Homo sapiens: one gene and its partners. The protein of the gene in region 2 purifies or fractionates together with the protein of the main gene of each other region. This does not show direct contact. Each region holds a gene or a part of one and is shown on either strand. Other genes may lie near its edges.

Evidence for each region.
Region 1: the proteins of UTP4 (region 2) and DNAAF10 purify together in Homo sapiens (co-immunoprecipitation; one large-scale study listed by IntAct). This does not show direct contact.
Region 3: the proteins of UTP4 (region 2) and DCAF10 purify together in Homo sapiens (co-immunoprecipitation; one large-scale study listed by IntAct). This does not show direct contact.

What each region holds. Positions count from the first base shown.
Region 1 is NC_000002.12:68,147,448-68,151,101, reverse strand, and holds part of DNAAF10 (dynein axonemal assembly factor 10), read left to right. Parts: intron 1-3,534; coding exon 3,535-3,635; intron 3,636-3,654. UniProt on the Homo sapiens protein: Key assembly factor specifically required for the stability of axonemal dynein heavy chains in cytoplasm.
Region 2 is NC_000016.10:69,160,131-69,163,784, forward strand, and holds part of UTP4 (U3 small nucleolar RNA-associated protein 4 homolog), read left to right. Parts: intron 1-225; coding exon 226-332; intron 333-2,952; coding exon 2,953-3,048; intron 3,049-3,654. UniProt on the Homo sapiens protein: Ribosome biogenesis factor. Involved in nucleolar processing of pre-18S ribosomal RNA. Part of the small subunit (SSU) processome, first precursor of the small eukaryotic ribosomal subunit.
Region 3 is NC_000009.12:37,838,690-37,842,343, forward strand, and holds part of DCAF10 (DDB1- and CUL4-associated factor 10), read left to right. Parts: intron 1-3,399; coding exon 3,400-3,597; intron 3,598-3,654. UniProt on the Homo sapiens protein: May function as a substrate receptor for CUL4-DDB1 E3 ubiquitin-protein ligase complex.

The DNA of each region.
Region 1 (3,654 bases), on a different chromosome or scaffold from region 2:
TTTATATTTGTAATAAAGACATACTTTTAGAAGGGATGCAATGACAACTGTGAAAATGTATAGAGCTTATTGTGTAGACTGGTTGTCAGTTTGGTTTCTTTCCTTTGAAGGTAGCAATTCTCAGACATGTGCAGGTGTCAAAGAATCTGCACATTGCAGTGCTGTTTTTGGAACACCATAAAATATTGGAGTAGTCAGTTCTATCTCTGCACAGGGAAGAGATTTTCAGCAGAAAAATCTGACTATATATAGAGATAGATAAATAGATAGAGATTCCGATTTTTACATCACAAGTAACCACACAGTTTTTAAGTCTTCACTTCCAAGGTTTTATTTTTATTTTTATTTTTTTATTTTATTTTATTTTTTGAGACGGAGTCTCTCTCTGTCGCCCAGGCTGGAGTGCGGTGGTGTGATCTTGGCTCACTGCAGCCTCCGCCCTCTGGGTTCAAGCAGTTCTCCTGCCTCAGCCTCCCCAGTAGCTGGAATTACAGGCATCCACCACCACGCCTGGCTAATTTTTGTATTTTTAGTAGAGAGGGGGTTTCACCATTTTGGCCAGGCTGGTCTTGAACTCCTGACCTCAGGTGATCCGCCTGCCTCAGCCTCCCAAAGTGCTGATATTATAGGCGTGAGCCACTGCACACAGTCCAAGTTTTTTTAACTGGTGTTCATTTGCTAGTATTTTCTACCAGGCAAGCTAAGAAAATTATTTTTAAAAAAACTTTAAAATCTGAAAACAACACATGCATCAGCTTTTGTTCTTGGTGAATTTTCTGATTAATGTATTATGTTAGTAACAGAAGATCAGTGTGTTCCAGGAGTATAGTTTGAGATTCTCTAGTCTAAAGGGTCTAAAAGTGAAAGTTGGGTAAAAGAATAACAGGGAGGAAAGTTTTTGCTTCCAGTTTTTTATTTTTATCCAGCAGTAAAATTTTAGAAGACTGTAGGGAACCAAAGAGTGTAGGTTAGTTTTTACCTCTTCCATGGCCTAGGAATCACAGAAACCCTCATCAGAGGTTTGAGGGGACAGCGGTGGAATTCTGGGAAGCAGAATGCTTTAGCTGGTTGGTGGGAAGAAAATGGGAGACCAGTCTTCCCAGTGCTTCTCTGAGAAAAATGTTCCCAGAGAATTGGGTCAATAGATGATGCAAGTTCTTCACAGCTTCTAATCCCCTGTCTCCTGGAACCACATTGCTGTGCATGAGGACCACCAGCTTCTTACCTCAGAGGGTCTGCTTCCACCCTCTGCCTCAGAACATGGAAGCCATTATCAGTGGCTTAGAGCTGGCAAGACCCAGGTTCAGTGTGAGACCAAGGGGAGGAAAGAGTGGATAGCCGTCTCACCAGTTGGCATAGGTTGGAACTCAGAATTAATTTCACCATAGAAATTGTGCCCTAATAGTGATTAAGTGCTTTACCACTGTTAATATATTATTTCAGGTACTTTTATTTGAGGAGAGGGGAATGGTGAGGAAAACATAAATTGCCTGCAGTTAGAAACCATGTGCTTTGTTGACAAAATTTTGATCCTCTGTGTTGCCCCATTTTCAGATACTCTTTTTCATAAAATTGGGAAAAAATGGGAATAAATGAATATTAATTTTCTGCGGCAGTGAATAACTGATGCCATCTCAGTCCACTTGTGCATTAAAAAGAGAAACATTCTGTGGTTCCATGCTTCTCATCAATAGGGTCTTTTACAAACATGTTACTGTACGTGGCTGATTTCGTTTACTAGACAATTCTGAGGAAGGTATGAGTGCTTTTAGACTTGGCCACGTAGTAACTCCAATTTATCTAGATCACAAACAATAGGAAAGTTCAACAGTCTGGGAGTTTCCAAAGCCCTATACCATATAATGGTAACCTTTGAATCAGAGAAAAAAAGTTGTTATAGTTTGTGTTAAGTGACTTCTATTTTATTCGTGAAAATTGCTATGTATACCTTATATGGATAATATACCCTATATAGAAATGCCTGGATAAACATTGAAAGTGGCAGGGAAATTATTTTTAAAATTATTTGAAACAGGCCAACCTGGGAGGGATGAAGAGAACTGAAGAGTTACAAGGGGAGATGTCCTGGAAACTGGAGAACACTGCAAAAGGAATAAAGTTTATCCAGATGTATTGTTAAGTGAAACACATCAAAGGACAGTGTACCATGATCTGCCTTGTATTGAAACAAAACCATGTGTGTTTGTAAATGCGTAGAAGGCCTAGAAGGGTGGGGATTACTTCTGGAGAGTGTTAAAGGGACTCACTTTTTCCTTCCATCCTTTTGTTTTGTTTGAATTTTTATAGGGAGCAGGTATTACTTTTATAAACATTAAGAATTTAAAAATGTAAAAATTGTTAGAGACCAAGAGGAATAGTTTTGCCCCATTGAGGCTGACAGTCAGTGGGAAGTGTTATATGGCAAGAGTGTGATGTGGGACAGATATCAGTGGCCTCATCTAATTCCAGATTCCGGAGATCTCGGGAGCCAAGGCAGCAGGAAAAGCAGTTAGACTGTAGGAGGGACTTCAGTGACCTGGGCAGGTAGAGTTGGCGGCGGGAGGGGCCATGGAGAAATCAGAAACATCAGGAAGTAAAAGAAGGTGAATAGAAGACCCAGGGAGGCATAGGAGTAGTATAACGAATATGTATATTTTGGAGGAACCAGATAAGAACTGATATTTGAGTTGTTAGCTTTTTGAGGGACTGGCCAATCTCATTCATCTTTGTATCCTCTTTTGCCTACTTCAGTGACTTGCATGTAGTAGAAACCATTAAATGTTGAATGTTGTATGAGTTCGGCAAATCTGTACAGCCCTATGCTTTGGTCTCCTTTTATGACAGGAGGGTATTGTGTTAGATCCTTTCCAAGGACCTTTTTGGCTACATAGTCTTCTTCACCTGATTTCCATAAACCCCATACGTTAAATAATATATTCGTATGTGATTGTTTTACTAATGTGACTATATACAATACTTGGTGCAGTAGCCTTTTAAAGTAAAGAAACCTCAAAAGATTGGCTGATCCATACTAATAGTAGCGCCTTGGTACACACAAGTTTATAAATCTCTCTGCATTGAAAAGGCCCCAGAGAAAGTGGGACATAAACATCTTTAGTTTATAGGGTTCTGCAGGGAAAACTATAAGAGACACATAACATTTTTGTTCCCATAACCATCTGGAAAGATAATATCTTCATTATGTTCTCATTTCTGCTGAGGATCTTAAAGAATATCACATGAAATGCTGAAACTTTCATATTTGCAATAGAGATTGTAGAGCTGTCAGCATTTGAATGTCTCATTAGTGAGAGGAGAGGAAAGGCAAATTAACACTTTTTCTTTTTGACAGTTACATATTTTAAAGAAAAATGAGTAAAGGAAAAAGCAAGATTATTTTCATCAGAAGATGTTTTAATTGCCTTTTATATTGTCTTATTTAAATGCCATAATAGAGCCATAAATATGATATTAATAGATTATAAATATCTGCTTACATAAATAATATATCCTCTCTTCCTCCCTTCTATGAAGATTGAAAAGGCCAAACCTATTAAATGTGGAACATTTGGTGCAACATCTTTACAGCAGAGATATTTAGCTACTGGAGATTTTGGTGGAAACCTTCATATATGGTAAGATGATTTAGTCAGT
Region 2 (3,654 bases):
TCTGTTTTATCTCTCTGGACCTTCTTTACAGGCGGGATGGTTAAATAAGTAGATGAAAAAAGTAGAAACATTAACATCTAGAAGTAATTTGCACAGTGATCAGCAAATTATCCTGGCAGTGATTTAAAACTCTAATGGTCTCCTTGGCTTTTGCCATCATCTCCAGGGCAGGTCTGGCTGTGGACACTGTGTGAATTCAGAGATGTAACTGTTTTGTCCTCACAGGAACAGTGGAGGCCATGTGTCTTTTGGCAGTCAGTCCAGATGGGAATTGGCTAGCTGCATCAGGTACCAGTGCTGGAGTCCATGTCTACAACGTAAAACAGCTAAAGGTGAGCATAGGGTTTCATGGCAGCAGTTTGAATCATTGTACAGGAGCCAGTTCACCCTGCAGTTACAAGATTCAAGGCAGATTGGCATGACCTGGAAATTTATTAGACTTTTTTCTTTTTATTTTCTTTTCTTTTCTTTTTTTTTTTTTTTTGAGACAAAGTCTTACTCTGTCACCCAGGCTAGAGTGCAGTGGCGCGATCTCGGCTCACTGCAACCTCAGCCTCCCGGGTTCAAATGATTCTCCTGTCTCAGCCTCCTGAGTAGCTGGGATTACAGGTGTGTGCCTCCACACCTGGCTAATTTTTGTATTTTAATAGAGACAGGGTTTCACCGTGTTGCTCAGGCTGACCTTGAACTCCTGAGCTCAGGCAATCCGCCCACCTCGGCCTCCCAAAGTGCTAGGATTACAGGCATGAGCCACCGCGCCTGGCCAGACTTTTTTCTTTTTAACTAATAATTTTTCCAGGTTTGGAATCCTGTTTTATTTTTATGGAACCCGGAAGCTATACTGTGTAACATTAAAAGCAGCTAATGGAAACAGTGAAACCCATTCATACCTGGAAATTTGAAATTAATGATCTGTGGGTGATGTAAACACATCCAGGTTCTTTCTGTATTTTCGGGAGGAAAATTCTGATATACACAGACAAATAGTTGCAGATAATAAGAGTTCCTTTCATGGCTTGCCTTGTAATCTCAAGGTAAACATAATCAAAACTTCGAAAAAGGAATACTGGGAAAACATTTTTCACTAATCAGTAATGACGCTGTCAGTCATAAATTGAGTCATTAGTGATCCCTTACAAGTCCTCATCTTCATTATAAGAATCAGATTCGAACTACCCAAAACTTGGAATAAGCATTAAAAGTGTATAGAATAACATCAAACTGCAACACTTAATGGGTTTACCTGTTAACTGCATAGTGTAACCTTTGTTGCATTATGGTAGGAGCATGTACTGAGCACTTGTCTTTGAGCCTTGCCTGGCATTTAAAGAGTGTTTGTGTGTAGCGTGCACATGCTTTGCAATTGTACATAAAAATCCATGCCTAGGCATTTATTTATTTTAAACCTGGTGTAGAGCTGTAGACTCCCTATTCAATGACACATTTATAAGCAGTTTGTACAGATGGATTTACTCAGAGGGAAAGGCTTTACTCTCAGTTCTCCACAAACGCTGTTAGTTTTGTACGCGGTTAAATAAGCTTTTTATTTTTTTGAGACAGGGTTTCACTCTGTCACCCAGACTGAGTGCAGTGGCACAGTCACAGCTCACTGCAGCCTTGACCTCTCTGCTCAAGCGATCCTTCCACCTCAGTGTCCTGAGTAGCTGGGACTACAGGCGAGTCCCACCACACCTAGCTAATCTTTTTTTTTAGTAGAGATGAGGTTTTGCTGTGTTGCCCAGGCTGGTCTTGAACTCCTGGACTCAAGCGTTCCTCCCGCCCTGGCCCTTCCGAAGTGCTGTAGTTACAGGTGTGAGCCACTGCGCCCAGCCAATAGGCCTTTTGTTTTTTTTTTGAGATTGAGTCTTGCACTGTTGCCCAGGCTGGAGTGTGGTGGCGCAGTCTCTGCTCACTGCAACCTCCGCCTCCTAGGTTCAAGTGATTCTCCTGCCTCACCCTCCTGAGTAGCTGGGATTACAGGTGCACGCCACCACACCCAGCTAATTTTTTTAATTTTTGGTAGAGATGGGGTTTCACCATGTTGGCCAGGCTGGTCTCAAACTCCTGACCTCGTGATCCGCCTGCCTTGGCCTCCCAAAGTGCTGGGATTATAGGCATGAGCCACTGCGCCCGGCCAACCAATAGGTATTTTTTTAAGAAAATGAGGACTGGTGCGGTGGCTTACGCCTGTAATCCCAGCACTTTGGGAGGCCGAGGTGGGTGGATCATGAGGTCAGAAGTTCAAAACCAGCCCGGCCAACATAGTGAGACCCCGTTTCTACTAAAAATACAAAAATTAAGCCAGGTGCAGTGGTTCACGCCTATAATCCCAACACTTTGGGAGACCAAGGTGGGTGGATCACCTGAGGTCAGGAGTTTGAGACCAGCCTGGCCAACATGGTGAAACCCCGTCTCTACTAAAAATACAAAAATTAGCCAGGCATGGTGGTGGGTGCCTGTAATCCCAGCTGCTCGGGAGGCTGAGGCAGGAGAATCACTTGAAACCGGAAGGTGGAGGTTGCAGTGAGTCAAGATCATGCCATTGCACTCCAGCCTGGGAGAAAGAGTGAAACTCCATCTCAAAAAAAAAAAAAAAGAAAAACAAAAAATTAGCCGGGTGTGGTGGTAGGCGCCTGTAATCCCAGCTACTTGGGAGGCTGAGGCAGGAGAATCACTTGAACCTGGGAGGCAGAGGTTGCAGTGAGCTGATTATCACGCCACTGCACTCCAGCCTGGGTGACAAGAGCGAAACTCCATCTCAAAAAAAAAAAAAAGAGAAGAAAAAGAAATGAAAGTTCATTGGTTGGGGAAATGCCTGAAATTTTTGGAACTTCCCTAGAACCCTTTTGAATTATGAGGAGCAGTATTTAAACCCCTGACCTAGACCATTCAATCTTTGCTGAGGAAAAGTGTCACTTAGAGTTGCCACTTGTGTCTGTTATTTGTTCCCAGCTTCACTGCACGGTGCCTGCTTACAATTTCCCAGTGACTGCTATGGCTATTGCCCCCAATACCAACAACCTTGTCATCGCTCATTCGGACCAGCAGGTAAGGGAGATTCCAGTGCTTTCTATTCCCTTCCTGCTGGATAGTAACCTAGAAGCTGGAATATTGGGCAGTTGCGGGGAGCTTTTTTTTGAAGGTGTTGGAGGATATAAGGTAGTTTTCTCCTGTGTGAAGTAAAGCTTCCTTGCCGGTCTGGGCTCATCATAGGCCAGCAGTATGCATTGGTTTGATGGGATGCAATTTAAATGGAGAAGCACTAAGATTCTAGAGTAAAGAATCACAAGAGGGAGGAGGAATTTTGAAGTACTCATTTTCCTGATTGTTTTAGAGGAGAGATGACATGGGCTTGGGTATTAAACTGGATATGGGATGGAATAAGATTTTGAGAGTTGAAAGTGACTAAAAGATTGTATCATTCACCTTTACGCTTGCCGATGAGGAAATCAAGCCCTAATAAGATCAGGTACCTAATCTCAGCCAAAATTAGAACCTAATCTACTTTTTTCTATACCAATTTGTAAGGAGATTGTGATTATAAGGAGATCTTTAAAAAAAAAAAAACCTGGGCTGCGGAATATATTAGGAAGTTATCAATAATTATATTAGGAAGTTATCAATAATTCATCTGTAAAATTGGAGATGTTAATA
Region 3 (3,654 bases), on a different chromosome or scaffold from region 2:
GTGACCAGCCTGGCCAACCTGACAAAACCTGTCTCTACTAAAAATACAAAAATTAGCTGGGCATCGCAGCGGGCACCTGTAATCCCAGCTACTCTGGAGGCTGAGGCATGAGAATCACTTGAATGTAGGAGGTAGAGGTTGCAGTGAGCACCTGGGGGATAAAGCGTGACTCTGTCTCCAAAAAAAAAAAAATTAAAAAGAAAAAAGGTTTCAGTTCTTCATACAGTGAACACTATTCAGCCATTAAACATGATTTTGTTAATAAACCTTTAATAATGGCAATATGTTTTTGAGATAATATTAGGTTTAAAACAGAAATTAAGCTAAACATCAATAAAGTGGTTATTTTTGGTGATGGATTTTTTTTTTCTTTTTCTTTTTTTTGAGACGGAATCTTGCTCTGTGCCCCAGCTGGAGTGCAGTGGCACGATCTCAGCTCACTGCAACATCCGCCTCCCGGGTTCAAGCAATTCTCTGCCTCTGCCTCAGCCTCCGAGTAGCTGGGATTACAGGCGCCCGCCACCATGCCCAGCTAATTTTTTTTGTATTTTTAGTAGAGACAGGGTTTCACCATCTCGGCCAGGCTGGTCTTGAACTCCTGACCTTGTGATCCACCCGCCTCAGCCTCTCAAAGTGCTGGGATTACAGGCGTGAGCCACTGCGCCCAGCCGATTTTTTTTCATTAAAAATATTTTCAGTAGAAATGTTTTTTGTTATCGTTATTTTTAAAATAAGAGATGGGGTTTCGTCATGTTGCCCAGGCTGGTCTCAAACTCCTGAGCTCAAGTGATCCATCCATCTTGGCCTTCCAAAATGTTGGGATTATAGGTATGAGCTACCACGCTTGGCCAGGAAATGTATTTTTATAATTAAAAAATAGTTACTGGTAATCACCATAGAATAAATCCATAATGTATTCCCTAGTCATCTCTACTTTCCCACACACAGCACTCCTAACTGCTGCTTCTCAGAGGGCACCATCCGCTCACATGCCTGTGTATCTTTGCTTAGTAACCCTGACCACTTAGGGAGTTCCTGCTCATCTTTTATTCAGTTCAAATGATAACATCATGAAGTCTTTCCCAGCCACCCTCTTTGCTTATTCCACACAATTATTTCGTGTAATTATGTACTTACAGTGTCTTTTCTGCTAGGCAGTGAACTTCTCTTTCATTTATTTTGTAAGTATTTGTTGAGTGCATATGTGTCTGGCACCATGTGTATTGTATACTGCAGATCTAACCATGACCCTAGGCAGACAGGTTCCTTCTGTCTTCAGGGAGTTTACAGTAAAGTTGTTCCTTACAGTATAATATTAAGTATTATGATAGAAGCTCCCAGAATGCTTTGGGAGCTCAGAGAATTGGTAGGTCTACCAGGCTGGTTAAACAAGGAAGGCTTCCTGGAGGGCATAACAGCTGAATACAGTTATATGCCACATAACAACATTTCAGTGAGTGACACCATATACAACAGTGGTTCCAGAAGATTATAATGGAGCTGAAAAATTCCTATTGCCTAATACTTACTATGTTATACTTATTATTGTTATTTTAGAATGTACTCCTACTTAAAAAAAAATTAAACTGTAAAACAGCCTCAGGGAGGTTCTTCAGGAGGTATTCCAGGAGAAGCCATTGTTATCAGGAGATGACAGCTCTGTTCCTGTTATTGCCCCTGGAGGCCTTCCAGTGGGGCAAGATGTGGAGATGGAAGACAGTGATATTGATGATTTTTACCCTGTGTAGAACTAGGCTAATGTGTGTCTTTGTTTTTAACAAAAAAGTTTAAAAAGTAAACATTTTAATAGAAAAAAGTTAATAAAATAAGGCTATAAAGAAAGAAAATATTTTTGTACAGTTGTACAATGTGTTTGTGTTTAAGCTGTTATTACAAAAGAGTCAAAAGTTTAAAAAATTAAAAATTCATGAAGTAAAAAAAGTTATAGTAATCGAAGGTTAATTTATTACTGATGAAAAATTTTTAAATTAATTTAGTGTAGCCTAAGTGTACAGTCTTTATAATGTCTACAGTAATGGACAGTAATGCCCTAGGCCTTCACACTGACTCACCCCTCACTCACTGACTCACCCAGAGCAACTCCCACGCCTGCAAGCTCCATTCATGGTAAGTGCCCTATACAGGCGTAACATTTTAAATCTTTTATACAGTACTTTTACTGTATTTTTTCTATCTTTCAATATACAAATACTTACGATTGTGTTACAGTTGCCTACAGTATTTAGTATGGTAACATGCTGTGCACATTTGTAGCCTATGAGTGATAGGCTATATACCATATATACCATATAACCTCAGTGTGTACCATCTAGGTTTGTGTAAGTTCATTCTATGATGTTCACACAACAACAAAATCACCTAAGGACACATTTCTCAGAATGTATTCCATCATTAAGTGACACATGATGGTATTAAAAAGAAAGCAAGAATTAGCCAGATCCAGGGGCAGGAGGAAGGTTGTTTCACCTAGCAGAAACAACCTGTGTAAACGCCTGGTATTTGAAAACCGTGATCAATTTTAGGAAGGTCGTTATGGTGTTTGTGGATATTGAGGTTGATTTCTGACAATTATATGTAAATTTATCTTAGAAGAAGCACCAGAATTCATTTCTTCTGTAAGAGATTAGGATAACAGCATGTATTACAGAAAGCATCCTAATGTTAAATTAAGCAAAAATTCAAGTGTGAATAGTAGTTTATTTTTTAAGTATTTGTATTAAATATATTCTCACTAAGGATTGAGAAGTTAGTGTAAAATAATAAAAAGTCTGAATTATAGAGTATTTTAAGCCTATTTTGTAATTTTCTTGATTGGTCCTAATAAAATGTTGCTAAGAGATTATTTGGGAAATACCTTTCAGTTAAAAGATTTAAAATAATGGCAATTTTATAGCAATTTTTGTATGTAACTGTGTTCTAAATAGAAAAAGATGTTCCTTGTAGCAGAGCAAATATTTCTCATGATTTTGATTATGTGTAATGTGTCCCTCTCGGCAATCAAGTCTTCAAAACTTCCTCTATCGCCTATTAAATTCTCTCTCATCATTTTTGTTTCCTATAGAGATTCTGAAGTTCTTTTTTTCCCTTCTGTCACTGTTTTCCAAACACTTACCCCTATTTCCAATTTCAAATAAAAATCAGTAATTTAAAGCAAATGGATCCAATTGCAATATGACTGTCATTAAATCATAGTATCCTGGCTCTGTGATTATGCAAAGTATACTTTTTATAGTATATCAGTCATTGGGTTTACATAGTGAGTGTGTAGTCCTTTTTTTCTTTCTTTCTTGACTAGGTAATATAGTGACTGTTTCTCAAATCAATTTTCCTTTAAAAAGAGATTAAATGAACCAGGGTTTTGTTTTTCTGCTTTTATAGATTTCTTGATAACCGGCTGTTTGCTACCTGCTCTGATGACACTACAATAGCACTATGGGATCTGAGAAAATTGAACACCAAAGTATGCACTTTACATGGTCACACTAGCTGGGTGAAGAACATCGAATATGATACTAATACAAGACTCTTAGTAACATCAGGATTTGATGGAAATGTCATTATTTGGGACACTAACAGGTTTGTGAATAGGAGACCATGTTAGGATTATGAACAAAAACATTTTTTTTAAAGATG